3 separate regions of the Homo sapiens genome follow, and all the other regions are reported to be linked to region 1. The links are microRNA targets in miRTarBase. Many come from high-throughput screens and were not tested one by one. Region 1 holds a microRNA gene; each other region holds the end of a gene's coding sequence.
The links. The annotated mature microRNA hsa-miR-4706 reads AGCGGGGAGGAAGUGGGCGCUGCUU and lies in region 1 at 4,140-4,164, opposite strand. An mRNA with a match to its seed (bases 2 to 7 or 8) in the 3' UTR can be bound and repressed. Matches are read on the target gene's strand: a 7mer-m8 pairs with bases 2 to 8, a 7mer-A1 pairs with bases 2 to 7 and ends in A, and an 8mer does both.

Region 1 (7,188 bases):
GTGTTTTTTTGAGACAAAGTCTTGCTCTGTCGCTCAGGCTGGAGTTGCAGTGGCACTCTCTGCCTGCAACCTCTGCCTCCCAGACTCAAGTGATCCTTCTACCTCAGCCTCCTGAGTAGCTAGGACTACAGGCATGTGCCACCATGTCTGGTTAACTGTTTTTAATTTTTTGTAGAGACAAGCTCTCACTATATTGCCCAGGCTGGTCTTGAACTCCTGAGCTCAAGAGGTCCTCCTGCTTTGGCCTCCCAAAGTGCTGGGATTATGGTCATGAACCACCATGTCCAGCATTTTAAGGTACTAATAGTAATTCCTTCTTCTACTCAAATACTGTCATTTACACATAGAAGGTAGTCAATGGCATGGAGCCACTGATGGTCACTTGCTGGGTCAGGGCATGGCCTAGACCCACGTGCTGCACTATGTAGAGCATTCTTTTTGCTTTTTAGTTAGCAATATGATCAATGCCTTTTAAAAAATGTATTTGTACATTTACCAAAATAAAATTAGTAATGCACATGGTTTTTTTTTTTTTAAAGGCACAGTATAATACAGAAGGATAGAAAATCTAAAAAGTTGGCCAGGTATGGTGGCTCACGCCTGTAATCTCAGCACTTTGTGTGGCCAAGGAAGGTGGATCACTTGAGGCCAGGAGTTTGAGACCAGCCAGGCCAACATAGTCATATCCTGTCTCTACTAAAAATAGAAAACATTGGCTGGGTGTGGTGGTACACGCCTGTAATCCCAGCTACACAGGAGGCTGAGGCAAGAAAATCAATTGAACCGAGGAGGCTACAGTGAGCCGAGATTGCACCACTGCACTCCAGCCTCAGCAACAGAGTGAGACTCTGTCTCAAAAAAAAAAAAAAAAAAAAAAAAAAATCTAAAAAGTCTCCCTCCTTCTGTCTTCTGTCTGCTTCTCTTCTCCCAAAGGTACCCATTGTTCAAGGGGTTTTGTGTAGGGTTCCAGGAAAAGCTGTGTACATCTCGGGCTGTGTGCCCAGGCACTGCTCCAGGCCCCGCCCCCTTACACTTCATGTTGTATCTTGCAGAGCTTTCTATATCAGCCCATGGTATGCAGCTACTGTTTGGAGAGATTTTTATTATTTAACCCTTAACCTTTTGATAGGCACTTAGGCTGCTATTGAAACTCCACTTCAATATACATCCTTTGCTAATATCCCTGCAGGTAAATTCCTGACAGTGCACTTGCTGTGTTCAAAGGGTAAGTGCCCTTATAATTTAAATGGATGTCTCCAAACTGCCCTCCAAAAAATGACTTAACCTATTTACATCCCCACTATCAAATTACCTGTTTTCTCACACTCTCCCCAACATAGGGTATCAAGTTTTTTAATCTCTGCCAATCCAATAATAAAAACAAATAGTGCCACTCTTTTGATTAGCATTTCTTTTACTACAAGTGAGCTAAACAATTTTTCGTTGGATTAATGGCCACCTACTGTGGTTATGAGCAGGGCAGGGTTCAGATGCCAGCTAGTCTGGATTCACACAACCACATACTAACCCTTGTGAGTGCCAATCAGGTATTATAAAGCAATCACTTAACCTCACTGTAGTTTGTTTCCTCATCTGTAAACAATGGTACCTATTTCATAGGGTTGTTTTGAGAATTAAATGAGAAAACATATGTGAAATGCTCAGTACAGCCCCTGGCATACAGTGAGGGCTTGGGAAGACTCCGCTACCAGTAGTAGTGGCAGTTGTAGTAGAAAAAGTAAGAAGGACAGTTCTTTCACTGGGACCTCTTTCTTCAGATCCTTTGCCTGTTTTTCAGTTGGGTTGTCCATCCATTTCTTACTGGTTTGTATGATTTTTTTTCAAATTAAAGAAATTAGCCATTCATCACTTGTTATAAATATTTTTCGCACCTTTTTGCTTGTTTTGTTTGTAGAATTTCCCTGTTTCTGTAAAATAACTTTTGTTGTCTTTTTTTATGCAAGAAATACCTATTAACTATAGAAAGATTAGAAAATACAAACAGAAGCAAACATCACCTGTAACTTCACATCCTAGATACTTTCTATGAATTTTTTGTAGTCAACTCTTCACTAAAAATGGGATTCCACACATATTGCTTTGATATGATCACAATATATTGTGACTATCTTTCTACACTGCATCCCCTTTTGACTCCCAAAGTCAGTATTTTGCCCTCCTTTCAACACACTTCCCTTCTTTACAGACTCCTGTCTGTTCCAAGTTCAAGAGATGCCCTGTGTCTGAGAAGACAACACAGGCCTTCTCCCAGCCAATGAAAAAAGCTGGAAGCACCAAGATTCATAGGCACCCTTTTCCATAGACAAAGCTTTGAATGCCACTAAGCCCCCTAGAACATGTGCTACAAGAAACAATTAACCAGCAGCCCCCCTGGAAGACTTTGACAGGTGGTGCTCCTGTTATAGCTCATTCCACATTTCCCTGGGATTGCAGAATTACTGAGTCTTATCCATGCCAGGGACAGGTTTGTAAAAGACTGACCATTTTACCAGGGGCTTGACCTCACCAGTTCCAAATAAAGAGATCACCATGACCCCAAGTTTTTTTCTATCTTAGAAATGTTGGGCCAGGCACGGTGGCTCACGCCTGTAATCCCAGCACTTTGGGAGGCCAAGGCGGACAGATCACCTGAGGTCAGGAGTTCGAGACCAGCCTGACCAACATGGAGAAACCCTGTCTCTACTAAAAATACAAAATTGGCTGGGCGTGGTGGTGCATGCCTATAATCCCAGCTATTTAGGAGGCTAAGGCAGGAGAATTACTTGAACCCAGGGGGCAGAGGTTGCAGTGATCCATTGCACTCCGGCCTGGGCAACAAGAGTGAAACTCCGTCTCAAAAAAAAATAATACTAAAATAAAAAATGTTTGACTTGGGGAATTCCTGACTTCCCTACTGGTGGTCAAGGCAGAGACTGTGCAGGCTCCAAAGTCAGTGCACTTGCTGACAGTGCACTTGCTGTGTTCCAAGGGTAAGTGCCTTATATGCCTTAATACTGACACCTAAAGCCCAGTGGGCCCAGGCCGGGAAAATGGGACAGAGGCTCTGCTTACTTTAATTCAGTGTCAGAAATGGTCACAACTCAACAACTCAAAGGAAATTAAGAAACTAAATAATGAGGCTCAGGGCCGGGTGCGGTGGCTCACGCCTATAATCCCAGCACTTTGGGAGGCCGAAGTGGGCGGATCACCTGAGGTAAGGAGTTCAAGAACAGCCTGTCCAACATGGTGAAACCCTGTCTCTACTAAAAATACAAAAATTAGCCAGGTGTGGTGGCACGCGCCTGTAGTCCCAGCTACTCAGGAGGCTGAGGCAGGAGAATTGCTTGAACCTGGGAGGTGGAGGCTGCAGTGAGCCAAGATCGTGCCACTGCACTCCAGCCTGGGAGACAGAGCACGACTCCATCTCGGGGGCGGCGGGGAGGGGGGAAGACGGGGGGTGGGGGGCTCAGAAACAGGAAAAAAAAGTATGGGGAGGGGCAGAAAAGAATCTCATCTTTTACATTTGAGCAGTTACATTATCCAACTAAGTCCGAAGAACAGCTTCTCTTTGGACCCAGGGATCTCATTCCAAAAACAGATCAGCAACCAGCAGGGCCCCATGACTTCCTCTCTCCCACAGGTCTACTCAGAGACACCTGCTCTCACATCAAGTACACCAGAAAGATGGTGCAGGAGTTAGCAGGCAGACTGAGGTTTCAAGAGATAGAGAGAGAATGTTCCCAGACTTTTTGCTCACTAACTACTTCGGTTTTGCGTTCCCATTTGAGACCCCACAGAAACGAACGTGGATTTCTCTACTCCAATGGTGCAGGTGGAACAAACTCCCATTTAGGCTTATTCAATGAATGTAAAATAAAACATTTCTAATAGTGACAACTCTGCAGCCAGTCAGACACGGCGAGTCTCTTCTCCATGGTGTAGGGGCAACCCACCCCTACAACCCACCCCTACACATGGGTTCTGGTTCTCTACCCCTTTACGCAGTTGCCTTTCCTGTTGCTGTTGCAACAGTGACTGTTGCAACACTGAGGGTTTTCAGCTCTGCCCTGCACCCAGAGGAGGTGGCAATCACCACAGAGCCCAGGACAGGAGTGGGCTGCTCCTTCCAGATAACGCAGAAGCAGCGCCCACTTCCTCCCCGCTCCCCGTAGCAATTTCAAGGAAGCTCATTCTGTCGCAGCCAATTTGAAGAAGCAAAGAATGACACTAAACCAATGAAACTAAATCTTACTCTGCATTCGCATGCCCCACGGCATGAGGTTCCACACTGGGCACTCAAAATCCAGGATAGACAGAGCTCATTTCAACCCCTCTAAAAAAGCACGCTGGGCTTCCAGACTTTGTGAGTAGTGGAGGGAAATCATCCAGCCCCAAGTGAACAGCTCCCCAGGCTCACCTTGGGCGTGCAGTGCGCGGTGGAGCAGGGGCAGGAGCCCCGCCTGCCAGAAGGAGTAGCAGCCATCCACCAGCTTGTTGCAGCGGCCCTGAAATCCTCCTTCAAATCGCATCTGCCGGCTTGTCACCCATTGCTGAGGAGACACAGATGGGAAAGGCAGTTGTAGGCTAAAAGAGACAAAATCCAGCCCGACAGAATCTCCAGGAGTCAATCTGTGGGATGGAGGGTTTCCCATCTTGTGGCTTCTTGGCACTCTAGTTTTGGTGCTCTGGTTTTCTTTCCTTCCCTCCCCACACTGCCATAGACACAGAGTGAAGCATTTAAGCCAACGCTGTAGAGGCATCCAGCACTGATCTCTGCTCAATGCCTGGCAGACAACTACCTTTTCCTGGGTTCCAAAGCAGTGCCAGTGCTGAGAAGATAAAGAGGCCAAGCTGGTTTGTAAGGAGACCTTCAAAGTCTCTTAATAAACATGGCTTAAGTTGGAAATTGAAGGCAAGACTACCAGTAGCTCATTTCTCATTACTTCCCTGCTCCGGGGAGTTTATTAAAAGCAGATAAATGGAATTTGGTACTACATTTCTTTTTTTTTTTTTTTTTTTTTTTTTTTTTTTTGAGACGGAGTCTCGCTCTGTCGCCCAGGCCGGACTGCGGACTGCAGTGGCGCAATCTCGGCTCACTGCAAGCTCCGCTTCCCGGGTTCACGCCATTCTCCTGCCTCAGCCTCCCGAGTAGCTGGGACCACAGGCGCCCGCCACCGCGCCCGGCTAATTTTTTGTATTTTTAGTAGAGACGGGGTTTCACCTTGTTAGCCAGGATGGTCTCGATCTCCTGACCTCATGATCCACCCGCCTCGGCCTCCCAAAGTGCTGGGATTACAGGCGTGAGCCACCGTGCCCGGCCTGGTACTACATTTCATCAGATGATCTCAAACTGCTCCTGACTTTTACTTGGCACCTGGGGAAATTTACCCAAGGTCTCTTAGCAAGTCACTAGCAGGCCTGAAAGCAGAAGCCATTCATTCTAATTACCAAATGACAACTCTGCCCAGTCTGTGGCTGATATAAGAAAATCTTTTACTTTGAAGCTGTAAAATAGGTCTTGGTCTTGATGTCACTCAGCGGTCACACACGATACCACCATTCCTTGCTTATCTACAAGTTTTCTAAACACACTCTACTACAAAGATCAAGATAGTCATGGGTTTGGTCCCTCAGAATGAGCAGAACCAACTGGCTGAGCAGATATGACATTTCCATTTCCCTCCCTAGACCACCTAGGCCGTTCCAGCCACGGACTTACAGAGCTGCCTCACTCAACTGAAAGGGTACAGGGGAGGGTACTTCCTGTTTCTAGAGTCTTACTAGGTAAAGGTCCTGAAAGGAGCCACTGGGACCCTTGATGGAAGTGGGGGCCAGCCCTCCCCTAAAAGCTGTTGTTTAGATTATTCCCTCTTCAAGGCAACACCTGCCCATAGAGAGTCACAGTCACAAATGCTTAAAAGAGACAGAAAACACTGTACTGCAGGTTCAGGTACTAATATATCCTCGGTTGATCTTAAATGAACCAGGGCTTCCAGCATGTAATGGAAGTGGGCTAAGCATTACTCAGGCAGAGAGAAAGCAGGCGCTGCAGTGGGAGTCGGTTCCTCATTTCTACTTACCGCAGGGCTTAAGTGTTTTTAAGCAGACTAATTTACTTTTTCCAGTGCCTAAGCCCATGGATTTGTTCTGTTTCCTTGGGCTATAGGAATTCATACTTCAGATATGGGTCCTACTTCTCCCAAAGCAAATGGAAGGGAGTAGTCTGGATTAGAGCAGGGGTCCCTAACCCCCAGACCATGCCAGGCTGCACAGCAGGACATGAGTGGTGGGTGAGCCAGTGAAGCTTAATCTGTATTTACAGCTGCTCCTCACTGCTCCCATTACTGCCTGAGCTCCACTTCCTGACAGATCAGCAGCAGCATTAGATTCTCATAGGAGCGCAAACCCTACTGTGAACCGTGTATGCCAGGCTTCTAGGTTGCACGCTCTACATGAGAGTCTAATGCCTGATGATCTGTCACTGTCTCCCATCACCCCCAAATGGGACTGTCTAGTTGAAAGAAAACAAGCTCAGGGCTCTCACTGATTCTACATTATGGTGAGTTGTATAATTATTTCATTATATATTACAGTGTAATAATAGAAATAAAGTACACAATAAATGTAATGTACTTGAATCATCCTGAAGCCATCACCCCCCGTCCCACCCCCAACCCCAGGTCCACGGAAAAATTATCTCCCACAAAACTGGTCCCTTGTGCCAAAAAGATTATTACTGTGGGTTAGAGGGACACTAACATTTATTAAGTACCTACTATGTGCCAGGCTGTTTATAAATGTTCTCTCCTTTAACCTTAAAAAAATAAGGATTGTTATCCCTACCTTATAAAAGAAAAAAATATCAAGCTAAAAGAGATTAGACAATTTGCCCAAGGACTCATGTCTCAAATGTAGTAGGGACAGGGTTCAAATCTAGAACACTGTCTTTATAACTGAGGCACTCCCTAATCACATTCCTTATCTCTGCCTGGGAGATGGGACTTTTTTGTTTCATGCCTTATTGGTGTTCAGATTTTAAAACATCTGAGAAACTCTTAAGTTCAGCATACAAAGTTGGCTGTTTCAGCATGAGCCTTCAAGCCTTCATGAATCTTTAAAAAGACTACACCGGGGGAGGCTTTCTGAAGGTGGAGGCAAGACACTGCTGGTTACATGTCTACAGGGTAC
Region 2 (7,188 bases), not on the chromosome of region 1:
TGGCCCCCACTGACCCTCCCACCCCCCATCCCCAGCTACCTGAACGACCTGGAGCGTATTGCACAGAGTGACTACATCCCCACACAGCAAGATGTGCTACGGACCCGCGTAAAGACCACGGGGATCGTGGAGACACACTTCACCTTCAAGGACCTACACTTCAAGTGAGCGAGCATGTGGACAGGTGGGAGGGGCAGGACCTGCCAGCCTCTGGGGTAGCAGAGGCAGGGGCTGGTCCAGGATCCCCCAGCCCCACTGAGGTTTTACAAGGCTCATGTGTTCTGGGCAAGCACATCCTCACCACCTAGTGAACCAGCAGTCAGGATCCACGCCACCTCTGCCAGCTGCTCACAGCCTCTGCTGCTCCTGCCTGATGTGGCTGCAGCCTGCCTGCTGTCCAAGCTCCTGGCCCAGAACCAGGGGTGAAGTGGGCAAGTGTGGATGATTCCAGAAGGTAGCTGCCCTACTCTGGGCAGGCCTCTGTCCTCAGTCAGCCAACCTGAGAAATGGGGTAGAAAGCCTCCCCCAGGCTCCCTTCCTGGAACTAAGGTGATCTATATCTGCAGGATGTTTGATGTGGGTGGTCAGCGGTCTGAGCGGAAGAAGTGGATCCACTGCTTTGAGGGCGTCACAGCCATCATCTTCTGCGTAGCCTTGAGCGCCTATGACTTGGTGCTAGCTGAGGACGAGGAGATGGTGAGAGGATGAGAGAATGCTGCGGGTGGGGGCAGCGGGCTTGGGGAGTGGTGGCTAGCGTTGACCTTGCTATTCTACCCCCAGAACCGCATGCATGAGAGCATGAAGCTATTCGATAGCATCTGCAACAACAAGTGGTTCACAGACACGTCCATCATCCTCTTCCTCAACAAGAAGGACCTGTTTGAGGAGAAGATCACACACAGTCCCCTGACCATCTGCTTCCCTGAGTACACAGGTGTGGGGACTGTGGGGATAGGGCCTCCAGAGGGTTGCTTCTTGTCCCAAGTAGCCTATGGTGACCAGGTGGCCCTCAGGCGCCCCCCACTGGACAGAAGTGTAACCTTGGAACACTGGCAGGGGCTGGTGCCTCACTTAGGCTTGTATAGTTGTGTGTGCACACATGAAGCCCTTAACACACTCAAGCATGTACCCCTGAACATGTGTACATGGGCATCCTCCTTCACACAGTGGGGTACCCCTTTGCACATCTGGCATGTATGGGCAGCCACAAACATTGTCATATTATGCACATGCATGCACAGGTTGTATGCCTGGCCGTCCACACGCACAGACCCTTGCTGCACACGTAGGATGCGGCCTGCCTGCCACACATGCAGCACAAGTCTTCATTTTCTCTCCCCCAGGGGCCAACAAATATGATGAGGCAGCCAGCTACATCCAGAGTAAGTTTGAGGACCTGAATAAGCGCAAAGACACCAAGGAGATCTACACGCACTTCACGTGCGCCACCGACACCAAGAACGTGCAGTTCGTGTTTGACGCCGTCACCGATGTCATCATCAAGAACAACCTGAAGGACTGCGGCCTCTTCTGAGGGGCAGCGGGGCCTGGCGGGATGGTGAGCCAGAGGGGCTGTGGCAGGGTGCTGGGGAAGAACTAAGCGGGCCTGGAGCCCCAGCAGGGGGTTCTGGGGGTGGGTAGGGGGGTGAACCTGGAGGGGGAGGGGCAATAGGTGACCAGGGGACAAGGGAGGAGAAGGCCCAGGGTGTGAATCAGGAGGTCAAGTGAGTGAGGTGCAGGGCATGGAGGAGGTCATACAAGCAGGCCTGGCCCAGTGGTCCAGACAGAAGGGCCTGGCCTTGCCCTGGGACAGAACCAGAGGCCATCCTGATGTTCCCTGGAGAAATCTCACCTCCTCACCCACCAGGCCATTGGCCCAGCCTGCCGGAAGCTGCATGCCAGCGGAGCCCAGCCCTGCTGCCCACTACCACCAGCTCCATGTGCACCTCCAGCTCTTGCCCTCTGACTTGTCTGAGCGTCCCGGGCTTAGGCTGGCCCCACTGGCCCTGGTGGAGGTGGGGATGACTCTCCCAGTGCCACAGACTCCCCTCCCCCACGTAACCCAGCAACAGAAACTGGCTCCTGGGCGGCAACTGTGTCCCTGGTAACAAATGGGTAGGAAAAATAGAGAAGGGTCATTGTCTAGGGAGGCGGGAGAGAGGCACGCCCTGGCTGCTTCCCGATCCATGCTCTGCTTTCCCCCACCTCCAGGGCCACCGCCGACTTTGTACCCCCCAACCCCTGAGGAAGATGGGGGCAAGAAGATCACGCTCCCCGCCTGTTCCCCCGCCGCTTTTCTCCTCTTTCCTCTCTTTGTTCTCAGCTCCCCCTGTCCCCTCAGCTCCAGACGTAGGGGAGGGGTTGCCACAGGCCTCCCTGTTTGAAGCCTGCCCTTGTCTGAGATGCTGGTAATGGCCATGGTACCCCCTTCTGGGCATCTGTTCTGGTTTTTAACCATTGTCTTGTTCTGTGATGAGGGGAGGGGGGCACATGCTGAGTCTCCCAAGGCTGCGTCTGGAGGGGCCCCTGCTTCTCCAGCCTGGACCCCCAGCTTTGCCCAACACCAGCCCCTGCCCCAGCCCAAGTCCAAATGTTTACAGGGAGCCTCCTGCCCAGTCCCCCAACCCCAGCCGCTCGGAGGCCCCAAAGGAAAAAGCACAAGAAGCGTGAGACGCCACCATTCCTGGAAACCACAGTCCACCTGCTCATTCTCGTAGCTTTTTAAAAAAATGAAAGTAAAGGAAAAAAAAAAAACTGCAAATCTAGAAAACTTTTTAGAGAAAAACTATTTAAAACTGTCAGATCCTGACCAGCAAGCCCCCCCCCAGCCCCCCTTCCAAGTGACTCCGTGCCTTGAGTGTGTCTGCGTGTTTACACCCGTCCCTCTGCTGGCCGCCCCCGTGCGAGCGGCACCCCTGCCCTGCCCTCCACAGAATTGGGTTCCAAGGGCTGTTCCAGACAACTGCCAACGTCACTGAGGGCCCTGCCCCAGCGGCCCTGGCCCCAGGCTCTATTAACCTAAAATGTAGCTCCCTAGCGCTAACCTAGGAACCGCCGCTGCCTGCTGGGGGGCCACGCCCCTCATGCCCTTGTCCCAGGCCCGGGGCCTTCAGCGTTGAACACTTCCTTGCTTTTTTCACATGTTTTATGGAATTGTTCACCTGGTTTGAAATAATAAAATGTAGAAAGAAAAAAAATACCGAGAACTGATGGGTATTCTCTCCCAGGGGCAGAGGCCTGGGCTAAGGTGTGCCAAGGTGATGGTGGTCCTAACCTCAGTCCTCAACCTGAGTCAGGGCCCTGACTCAGCTTTCCGGGCCGTCCTGGAGCCCCACGCTCTGAGCTTCATTTCTCCCACCTGGACTAGGCAGCATACATGTGGGGCCCGTGTGTCCCCGCCCTTCCAGTACTCTGCAGCCTTGGGTCTCGGGCAGCTGGGCAGGCTTCTAAGGGAGCTGTTGTAAGGTGCTCTTCCACACCTGGAGCAGGAGGGGTGGCCGGCCTCTCTAGCGCGGAAGGAGAAAGTGACTTCCGACTTAGGTACCAAGGCCTGAGAGTGTCCGTTGCCAAGGCCACACAGCCAGGTGGGCCGCATGCAGTCCTGGCTTGACTAAAAAGGCCAGTAGGGGCCTTAAGACATATTCAGAAAGTTCCCTGCCCCAGAGGGCCGCCGCCAAACCTGAAGGGTAGTGACAGGTGGCCATACTACCATGTGATGGTTGCCCCAGGCTGGGCCTGGAGAGCTGCAGATCATTGACTCTGAAGATGGAAGGCTCCATGAGGCTGTGGGAAGGGCCCGCGCGTTTCTGGGGAAGGGAATTGCAGATGGCAAGGCTGGTGATGCTTGTGGGGCGGGCCCTGAGTGCCATCGAGGCGCCTGGACCTTCTCCCGGGGGCAGCCGCGGCCTGAACGTGTGGGGGCGGGCTCGCGGAAAGGCTGGCCTCGACTGGGTGGGGCTCCGGCGTTGGCGCATCCGCCTCCGGCCGCCAGGGGGCGCCGCCGCCCGTGCTCTGCCCTGCCTGGCTGGTCACAGAGGCTGACGTCAGCGGGTCCCGCGGAGGCCGCTGGACACAAAGGCAGCTTTGTGAGGCGGCGACGGCTCCGCGGCCGCCCCAGGACAGAGCGGCCTGGGCAGAGGGCGGGCCGGGGTCGGCGCCGCGGAGGCGGGGAGGGAGGGAGGGTTGGAGGGTTGAGCCAGAGACCCGGGACCCCGTCCCCGCACACCTGCCAGTGCCCCGTAGCTTCGGCCGCCGGCACTGGCAGGAGATGAAAGGCTGCTGCCGCCCGGTCGGAAGGACATCGGCGCCCCCCAGGCCCGGTCCCCGCCCCAGTTCCTCGGGCCTTTCCTGCTGCCCCTGCCTGCGAGGGCCGACGACACGGAGAACAGGATCCTGCGCCCAACCCAGGTCCCCGCCTTCTTTCAGAGGCCCAGGCCTGGACCCCGCTGAGCCGCAGATGTGCGAGCAGGAGCGCCAGAGCCCCGATGCCCGCCCAGCAGGAAGCGGGCGGGAGATGGTTCCTTCCTTCTGTCCTGAGGGGGAACCCTGCACAGAGGGACCATTGAGGGCCTGGCATTGTCTGCCTAACTCACCCAGTGCCTCCCTCCCTGGGTGGGCCATGCGGGGCCTTGACAGGATTGCCCTGGTGCCGTCTTGGCAGTGGGTCTGGGTGGGATCCTGGGGGCAGGGCTTCCCTGAGTGCAGACAGCTAGGCCTCCACCTGCCCCGGCCTCCCACCCAGGCTCAGATTTCCAGGGCATAAGGCTCCATTGTCCCAGCACTGGTGGAGGCGGCCTGTCAATTCAGCCTTGTGTTTGGTGGTTGGGAAATTCCCAGCCATGGGGGGCTGCAGGCAGGAAGGGGCTGCCCAGGTGTCCTGCACCCCAACTGAAGGGACTCCATGAGGTTGGTTCCTGGGCATCCCCTGCTGCCTGGAGCTGTCCCAGGCTGGACCTCAACCATTCATCAACCCTCAGGAGCAGTTGGGTGAGGAGCACCAGAAATTCAATGCTCCCTGGCGCTGCATCCCCAGAGCCCTCCCAGCCTAAGAAGCCCCATCTTTCTGTCTCCACGCATGGAGAACTGCAGCTGTGAGGCCCAGGACCCTTAGCAGGACATGCAGAGCTGGGCAGGGACCCAGGCTCATGCTCCCAGCGTGGGGTGAGTTGTCTCCAGCCTGTGGAGACTGCCATGAAGTTGATCTGCCTCCCAGAGGGCCTGGCCCACTTGAAATAATTGCTCCGGCTACTGATGTGGTGGGAACTTTGGTATTTTTAACCCATTTGGGGGGTGGGGGAGCAGCTAGGAAGAGAGAGGCAAGCTTTCAGAGTCAGAGAGGCCTGAGAGAGGAGAGTAGAGGGAAACTCAGTGAGGAGGAGCCAGGCAGGCTGCCTCGGTAGTTCCCCAGGCCTAGACACCCCCCCTGTACCACCCCCTGTCCCAGCAGGTAGGTGCAGACCTAGATGCCAGGTGCAGAAGGGGGAAAGGGCCCTCTCCAGGGTTACAGCAGGGATCACCGAGGCTGCAGGGGCTGCCAAGGCCTGGAAGAAGTCCCATGTTCCAGGGAGCCCCATGGCTTCTGATGTCAGGAAAACTTAGTCCTCTCAGTTCCCCAGAATCATTTCACCCCACCCCACCCAAACTGAGTGGCAAACCAGTTGAGTAGAGAATACAAGCCCTGACTCCAGCTGCCTGGTCAGTGGCATAGCCAGCCAAGTCCTAGCAACCCTAGGAGTCAGGGAGTCAGGGAGGAGGCAAGGACAAGACTACAGTATTGTTTGGCTGAGTTCTGGGTCTGGCCCCACTCCCCAAAACTGACCCCAATCTCTGTGTCTGCTGCCCTAAAAAGAGACCCTGGGGCTGGGTGTGGTGGCTCACGCCTGTAATCCTAGCACTTTGGGAGGCCAAGGTGGGCGGATCACTTGAGATCAGGAGTTCAAGACCAGCCTGGCCAACATGGTGAAACCCCGTCTCTACTAAAATACAAAAATTAGCTGGGCATGATGACGGGTGCCTGTAATCCCAGCTACTCAGGAGGCTGAAACAGGAGAATCACTTGAACCCAGGAGACGGTGGTTGCAGTGAGCCAAGATTGTGCCACTGCACTCTAGCCTAGGTGGCTGAGCGAGACTCCATCTCAAAAAAATAAATAAAAGGAGACCCTGACTGGATGTAGTGGCTCATGCCTTAATCCCAGCACTTTTGGAGGCCAAGGCAGGAGGATCACTTGAGGCCAAAAGTTTGAGACCAGCCTGGGCAACATAGCAAGACCCCGTCTCTTAAAAACAAAAGATCCTAGCGGTCCTCATCTCTACCATGGACTACCAGAGGGAAGGCAGCACCTCTCATCACCCAGGGGGATGGCCTCCAGTCAGCTGGGGTATGTATGCAGCTGTGTGGCAGCAAATATGTCCATGCCTGCAAGCCACTCAGCCCTCAGTCACACGGTGATGGGCACTAATATCCAAGAGGAGCAGAAGTCAAGGCCATGGGTCCTTTTCTCCCCTTGCCAGAGATGCAGCCCCACAGTCCCTGGTGATCTTGGCTGGGAGAAAAATCAGAGTTTGACATCTCATCCCACTGCCTTCTGCTTTCTGACCTTACTGAGGTCAGGGTCATCAAGGCCTGGGGGACTGGGACAGGGTTAAGGGGTGTCCTTTCTCCATCCGTCTTCCAACCCCGTGGAGACTCAGCATGCCTAGGAAGGTGGAAGGGCTTCCTGCGGGCACACCATCTCCCGCCTCCCTGTGCCTGTCCTCTGCTGGGTCCTGGGTTCTCCAGTGATTATAGCCCTTGCTGCTTCCCCCACAGTGGGGAACACAGAGCCCTGCCCAGAGGCTTGAACCTGGCACCACAGGGGTCTGGAATTACACAGAAGACGGGTGACAGCCAAGGTGGATCATGAACGGTGAGAAGTCCAGCAGGTGACAAGGGGAAGGGTCTAAAGGGTGGAGGGCACAGCGCAAGCAAAGTCTTGGCAACAAAAGAGCTAATGCATCCCAGAAATGGGGCAGGTGGAGTACTGGAAGCTACACCAAGCTTCAGAGTGGTCCTGTGGCCTCGGTGTGGTAGCTCAGGCCTATAATTCCAACACTTTGGGAGGCTGAGGCAGGAGGAGGATAACTTGAACCCAGGAGTTCAAGATCAGCCTGGGCAACATAGTGAGACCTCCATTTTTACAAAAAATAC
Region 3 (7,188 bases), not on the chromosome of region 1:
TAAAAGAGTGGGTGGGAAGACTAGTGAAACCCAGTTCACGGATGGGGAAACAGGCCTGAGGTCACATTTCACTTAGTGGTTGTGTTGGGACCAAAACCTGGGTGTCCTCACTGCTGCCCTGAGTCCAGCCATGGTTTTCAGGGGGACAGTGGACAGGGACTCAGAAATGTGGTGGGAGGGCCTCCCTGGCTTGGGAGACCGCTCTCTGCAAGGGAGGGGGAGAGAAGCAGAGGGAGAGAGAAGGTGACACGGATGGAAGAGTGGGAAGGAGCTGGCCTGGCTCAGCCCTAGGCTGTCCCTGCAGCCAGGGTGTCCGGGGGCTGGCCAGTCAGAGAAAGGGGGCCATGGACTGCTGTGGCAAATAGGGAGACAAGGAGACAGACCCTGCAGTCCTACTACAGTCTGGAGTGGGGTCCTAAGAAGAAGGGTCCCACCTCAACCCCTGTCAGTGTCCACTGTGGGGTGGGGGCTGACCCCTGCCTTTGATTGTCATTCTCCTGGGAAGCCCAGTCTCAGTCCCTCCCCCAACACTGTCCACACTGCCCCTCCCCACTGTTTATTTATTGCACGGATCTAAGTTATTCTCCCCAGCCAGAGCCCGAGCTCCTGCTCCCTGGGAAAAGTGGCGTATGGCCCTGAGCTGGGCTTTATATTTTATATCTGCAAATAAATCACATTTTATCTTATATTTAGGGAAAGCCGGAGAGCAACAACAAAAAATGTTTAAGCCGGGCGCGGTGGCTCACATCTGTAATCCCAGCACTTTGGGAGTCCAAGGAGGGGGATCGCTTGAGTCCAGGAGTTTGAGACCAGCCTGGACAACATGGTGAAACCCCATCTCTACAAAAAATACAAAAATTAGCCATGCATGGTGGCTCATGCCTGTAGTCCCAGCTACTTGGGAGGCTGAGGCAGGAGGATCACTTAAGCCCAGAAGGCAGAGGTTGTAGTGAGCTGAGATCGCACCACTGCACTCCAGCCTGGGCAACATAGCAAAATCCTGTCTCAAAAAAAAAGTTAAAAAATATTGCCCGGCTCCTAGAATTTATTTATTTCCTGACTTACAGCAAGCGAGTTATCGTCTTCTGTATTTTGTAGACTTTCTAAATAAAGTCAAATTCTTTCTTTTTCCACAGAGAATAAATGTGTATCCTGGACTATGTTTTTTGGCGAGGGGTGTCTAAAATGGGGTTCTGCTTTCAACCCCTTAGGGCTTCTGGTGGCGGGGAGGGCTAGTGCACATCACCAGCTATTGCACAGGGTATGAGGTGGAGGGGAGATGGCGACAGAGACCAGTGATGCTGAAACTTCGATGCTTCCTCTTGGTTGCTTAGAGCACAGGAGCTCCTGGGAAGACAAAGCCATGGGCACAATGAAATTTAGGACTGGATTCTGGCGGAGCATGGTGGCTCACACCTGTAATCCCAGCACTTTGGGAGGCTGAAGCAAGAGGATCATCTGAGACTAGGAGTCCAAGAGCAACCCGGGCAACATAGTGACACCCCATCTCTACAAAAAATAAAAAATAATTAGCCACATGTGGTGGTACACATGCCTATTGTTCCAGCTACTGAAGAGGCTGAGGTGGGAGGATCACTTGAGGCCAGGAGTTTGAGACCAGGCTGGGCAACATAGCAAGACCCCCATCTCTACAAGAAATTTAAAAGTAAGAAAACAGGCCGGGCGCAGTGGCTCACACCTGTAATCCCAGCACTTTGGGAGGCTGAGGCGGGTGGATCATTTGAGGTCAGGAGTTCAAGACCAGCCTGACCAACATGGTGAAACCCCGTCTCTACTAAAAATACAAAAAACAACAACAACAAAAAAAAAACATGGCCCGGGTGCGGTGGCTCACGCCTGTAATCCCAGCACTTTGGGAGGCTGAGGCAGGCGGATCACGAGGTCAGGAGATCGAGACCATCCTGGCTAACACGGTGAAACCCCGTCTCTACTAAAAATACAAAAAACAACAACAACAAAAAAAAAACATGGCCCGGGTGCGGTGGCTCATGCCTGTAATCCCAGCACTTTGGGAGGCTGAGGCAGGCAGATCACGAGGTCAGGAGATCGAGACCATCCTGGCTAACACGGTGAAACCCCGTCTCTACTAAAAATACAAAAAAAATTAGCCGGGCATGGTGGCGGGCGCCTGTAGTCCCAGCTACTCGGGAGGCTGAGGCAGGAGAATGGTGTGAAGCCGGGAGGCGGAGCTTGCAGTGAGCTGAGATCGCGCCACTGGACTCCAGCCTGGGCGACAGAGTGAGACTCCGTCTCAAAAAAAAAAAGAAAAACAAAACAAAAAACAGAAAAACATAGCTGAGTGTGGTGGCGCATGTCTGTAGTCCTGGCTACTCAGGAGGTTGAGACAAGAGAGAATCGCTTAAACCCGGGAAGCAGAGGTTGCAGTAAGCTGAGATCGCGCCACTGCACTCCAGCCTGGGTGACAGAGCAAGACTCCATCTCAAAAAAAAAAAAAAAAAGAAAAGAAAAGAAAAGAAAACAATTAGCCAGTCATGGTGGTGTGGTTGAGCCCAGGAGTTTGAGGCTGCAGTGAGCTATGATTGCACCACTGCACAATCTAGGTGACACAGACCCTGTCTCAAAAGAAGAAGAAATTTAGGGTTAAATTCCCTGGGCATCCCTTTAGTGAACAGACAGTCCCACCCAGAGAGGAAAAAACCCAGATTTCAGAGTAATTTTTCCAGCACTTTCACATTGAGATCTGATTTTCTACAGCCAAGTGGAAACTATCTTCCCCATGTTTCGGAATGCCCAGGGAGGCAGGGAGAGTGGCTTTCCCAGCCCCCACCTGCAGGCCTAAACCATAACCCTGTGTCTTGTCCTAGGCCTCAAACTCACTAATTTCAACCCAATCTGCCAGCCCTTCTGGGGCACCCTGAAGAAGGAGTGGAGTATACTGTGGTCTGTGGGTCACGGCAATTGGGGTTTGAATCTAGGTGTCTGTTCTTAGCTGTGGGATCTTTGGTACTTATTTGGTTTCTTACAGTCTCAGTTTACCATCTGTAAAATGAAGATGCTATGGGGCATTACGTGCGAAAAACCCTGGAGACCTGTGGGGCTGCAGGTTTTAACACTCCGAACACACATTTACAGTGGCACAGACCGAGGTGAGGCCAACTCTATGGCTGGGTATGGGGCTGGCTGGGTATGGGGCCCGCGGGGTAAGGGACCAGTTGGGCGAAGGTGCAGGATTTGAGTCCGGGAAAGGGCCAGATCACGTAGGTAGGCCGTGTCCACGGGGCTTTCTCCCCTTCTCAGGTTGGGGCTCGGTGCTTTCCCTGCCAAGCCCATGACCCTGAAATGCTGAGCTCAGGCCTGCGGGAAGGGCAGCAGGAAGCTGCGGGAGGACGCAGGCTATTTACCCGCCTCGGGAGGCTGGTGGGAATTCCCCCACCCACACCGCATTCCTGAGTGCTCCCGTCAGCAGCAAGCCAGGCCCCAAGAAGGCATGCGGTACCAGAGAGGCCAGGCACTGTGCCCACAGCCAGCGGCCCCCTGCCCCAGGGTCCCTGGCCCTGAGGGTCCCAGGGTGGAGGACAGTCCCAGAGACGCAGGAAGCTCGTCTGAAAGGGGGATCCCAGGAAATCCTGGGAGATGCCTGCAGGAGCGGGGCTGCCAGCATGTGGGCCCCATGGACCTGGTTGACCAAACAGGGAAGGAGCATCGACCGCCTGCGGCCCGGCCGTCCTGGGTTGGGAACTGGCTGGAGGTTGGGGAGACCCTTTGTCCAAGGGGGGCCTGGGCCTTGACCTTGGTCCCTATCAATCCGAACCCCCATCACTGAAAGGTTACACACAGGAAGGAGAGGGTTTCCTAAGCCGCCTGTACCCACAGCCACTCCACCCACCCCAAAGCCAGAGCAGGGGGCAGGGAGGAGGAAGGAAAAACCTCACCCACAGGCAGAGATTTCAATACAATCTATATTATCTCATATATAGATTTCTTCCTCACTTTATTTGCTCACTTCTGTCACGCATTTAAAATGTCACAGAGACCAAAATAGAGTGGCTTTCTGGTGGAACTCATGGCAGTCATACAACAAGATACAAAACTAGGAGACTCTGTCTTCTCATACATCATACAATTAATTTTTCAAGTATTCTTTATGTACAAAGAGCTACTCTACCTGGAAAGAAAATTAAAAAAAAAAAAGACAAGGTAGGTTATGCATCCTAAGGAGGAGGAGGGGATGGAGCGGTCGGGCACATGTTCCCGTCCCCACGACCCCACGGACCGCTGATTCCCTGCCACTGAGCTCCCCCCACCCTCCACGCAAACAGCAACGCTGGGCAGGCGAAAACCAAGGGAGTGGGAATCAGCAGCACTTTGGCCTGGAGGGAGAAGGGAAGCCACGGTGGAGAGACAGCTTGGTGAAAGCAGATGGCGGGGCAGGGCCAGGGCTGGTCCTCAGCCTGTGTCTGCACCCACCCTCCCGGGCAGCTTGGGCCCAACTGCTCCGCCCCCCCAAGATGGAGGGGGAGAGCTGGCCTCTGGCACCCACATGCAGGCCTCTGCCACGAGGAAAGGAAGGAGGCCAGGAAGACGGCTGGGCCCCAACTCTCCTCACAGGTGGCAGGGAGGGAACCTGTTCATTCCAGGAAGGACCAAAAGAAAGAATCCCCAGTGAACACCGGCAGGGTCCCTCTCCCTTACCCTACCAGCTTCTCCAGGTGACTGCAGCCCAAACCCAGGGATAATCTGGGTTTTAAATGCCAGGACACTTTGCCTGTAGGGACACGTGTTGTGACACGAGGCTCTTCCTAAGTCAGGAGCTAGTATAAGCCCAGCCTGCTGGGGGTTCCGGAGGCCCCAGGTCTAGAGGTGTGGAGGGGGAGAGGAGGGGCTTGGTGGTCCTGACCACTCCTGAGGCCTGTCCAAGGGCTCTGGGCCCAGCACTGCAGGATCCTGCGAGTGCCAGCAGCTGAACTAAGAGCCCCAGGGAGCGTGTGGGACAGATGGGGAGCCAGGGAGGGGCGCTTTCATATGTGACTAAGGCACAGAAGAGATGGGCCAGGGGCCAGATGGGGTAGAACACCAGGCCCTGTGTGGATAGGGGCCCCGAGAGGAGTCTGGGACCATTCCCCCCACCTCCCAGCTCCCCACTGTGTGGCCACCCCTCCCGGTCTCCCTGCCGGACTGCCTTCCCCCAGAAGCTGGTCTGAAACGTGGAGACTCAGACCTTTCCCCTGAAACGGGAGGGAGAAGCCCCAAAGAGAGAGAGGACCCAGCATCAGCCTGGGAAGGAGGGCTGGGAGCCCCTGAGCCCTGAAGCAGCCAGGAAGCAAGGGCTCTGCCCAAAGCTATCGAGGAAGGACCCAAGTGAGCCGGCAGTGCGGGCTGTGGGCTGTCCTTGGTAGGCCAGGGGGAAGGGGCATGAGGCAGGCAGAGGTGTGGCCACGACAGGTGGGGATACCCAGGGGCCCAGAAGCCCCTGCTTCAACAGAAGCGGTGCCCAGGGGCCCTGAATGCCCTTCCTGGGTGGGGCCTGTGACTCCTGGTGTCTGGCTCTGATCCTTGCAGCATGCCACAGAGGCCTGGGTCAGGAGGGGAGGACCACAGAGCGCCCACATCCCCACTCCTGCCCGGGGTGAGGTGAATCTAGCACTGGACAAAGGTGGACAGGGGAGGGATGCAGGCGGGAAGAGCCCAGGTCAGACAGGGTATTGCACGGTGTGTGGGGGAGCCACGGCTTGCCGACCTCAGCCTGAGAGTCTCGCGGGGAGGAGGGGCTAGAAGGCTGCAGCCGCTGGTCCACACACAAGCATTGGGGCCTGGGTGCGGCTGGTCCCAGCATGCCCCCAGCACAGGACGGGCAGCAGGGGCATAAGCCTTGCTCCCAGTGTCCTCTGCCCTCGCCCGGGCAGTGCAGGCTGGGCCATGTATAAATATTCCTGAAGGCCCATGGGCGAGCCTGGCTGTCCCCCGTTCCTCTGGAAGTGACATGTGAGTGTTTCTGGTCCAATAAATAAAGGCGGCGTGAGCACTGTGCCAGCTGCCTCCTGGCCTGGTGGTGAGGCTGGAGGTGGGGCACAGCCTGACCGTGGCTATGGCGCCAGCACTTCCGCCACTGCAGCCCGCACCTAGAATTCATCATCAGAGCTGAGCAGGAGAGTCTTCTCGTTGTCGCGGGCGCCACTGAGGCTGTGGGAGCGGGAGAGGCCGTGGGCGCCACCACGCCAGGTGGGCCCAGGCTCCAGGGTGGACTGCTGCGTGTACTGCTGGTAGGCAGGTGAGAAGTTGTGGATGGCGTCCTGCACGATGTCGTGCGGGTTCATGGTCTCCTTGAGGCTGCTGGAGATGCTCTTCATGGGGGCACAGCGGCCTGCCGGGCAGGGAGCGGGAGGGGCAGGTGAGGAGGCTGGGACGGTGAGAGGGAGGTGGCTCAGCCCCTGCCCGTGATCCTGGGACAGACACCCCCCAACCCAAAGCTATGCCCTTCAACCATCCCTTCTGGGACAGAGAATGGGGTCCAGGATATGAGAAGGGGCAGGAAAAAATGGACTTCTTTGGCTGGGGAGCCCCAAGGGGAGGCTGGACTGTGAAGAGGAGCAGACATAAACCCCCACTGGGAGCTGGGCTGGCTGCAGGGAAGGGACCCAGGGTGGAGACTGGCAAGCTATGGGCAGTGAGCCTAGAATGCCCCAGAGAGGCCAGAGCAGGCTCAGCACTGACTGAAGTTGGGGCATGTGGGGCCAGAGGGCCTGGAAGCCAGGGGTGCCCGGTTCCACAGGTGCCAGGCGCGTCCCCCACCACCGGGGGAAGTGCTGTGCTCCCTCTACTCTGGAGATCAGGACCAGGCTGGCCTGCACCCCCAGGGGAGCAGATGCGACTCACTGGCTCCCTCTAAGAGGGCTTCCTCCTCATCTCTCTAATCAACTGTCCCCATCCTCAGGGGCTCAGAGCAGAAAGGTGGCCCAGGACACCTGGATGTAAGGGACGAGCCCACCCCTGGAACCCAGGATTCCTGACTCAGCTTGTGAACTCTTGGAAACATCGTGAAATGCCCCGATATCCCATGAACAGCACTGTGCCCCCAGAAGAAGGCGGGGCATATTCCAGAACGAGAAACGAGGACGGAAGCAGGCAAGCTCTACAGAGGGTGGCCCTTGACAGGTGCTCTGGGCGCTCCCACCCAGGGGGTGCCGGTGGGGAGGAGATGAGGACACG

Region 2: miRTarBase lists GNAI2 as a target of hsa-miR-4706. Seed matches in the 3' UTR shown: 7mer-m8 at 2,272-2,278.
Region 3: miRTarBase lists TMEM184B as a target of hsa-miR-4706. Seed matches in the 3' UTR shown: 7mer-m8 at 5,737-5,743.

What each region holds. Positions count from the first base shown.
Region 1 is chr14:65,041,673-65,048,860 of GRCh38, reverse strand. It overlaps MIR4706 (microRNA 4706), which reads right to left and starts at 4,173; the gene lies at 4,092-4,173. It overlaps CHURC1-FNTB (CHURC1-FNTB readthrough), which reads right to left. Exons shown (of 14, transcript NM_001202559.1): 11 at 4,418-4,550. It overlaps FNTB (farnesyltransferase, CAAX box, subunit beta), which reads right to left. Exons shown (of 12, transcript NM_002028.4): 9 at 4,418-4,550. It also overlaps a transcript of MAX not described here.
Region 2 is chr3:50,256,157-50,263,344 of GRCh38, forward strand. It overlaps GNAI2 (G protein subunit alpha i2), which reads left to right. Exons shown (of 9, transcript NM_002070.4): 5 at 36-164; 6 at 567-696; 7 at 781-934; 8 at 1,344-1,558; 9 at 2,212-3,206. The coding sequence ends at 1,534. LINC03143 (long intergenic non-protein coding RNA 3143) reads left to right here and starts at 4,070. Exons shown (of 1, transcript NR_198941.1): 1 at 4,070-7,188. It also overlaps a transcript of SEMA3B not described here. RefSeq lists silencers at 1,031-1,080, 3,861-4,280 and enhancers at 4,060-4,565, 4,451-4,550, 5,073-5,577.
Region 3 is chr22:38,215,368-38,222,555 of GRCh38, forward strand. TMEM184B (transmembrane protein 184B) reads right to left here. Exons shown (of 9, transcript NM_012264.5): 9 at 3,924-6,343. The coding sequence ends at 6,102. MAFF (MAF bZIP transcription factor F) reads left to right here. Exons shown (of 3, transcript NM_012323.4): 3 at 1-1,140. Among named protein-coding and RNA genes, the nearest start is that of SNORA92, 5.8 kb to the right of the region's middle. RefSeq lists enhancers at 2,839-4,038, 3,311-4,162.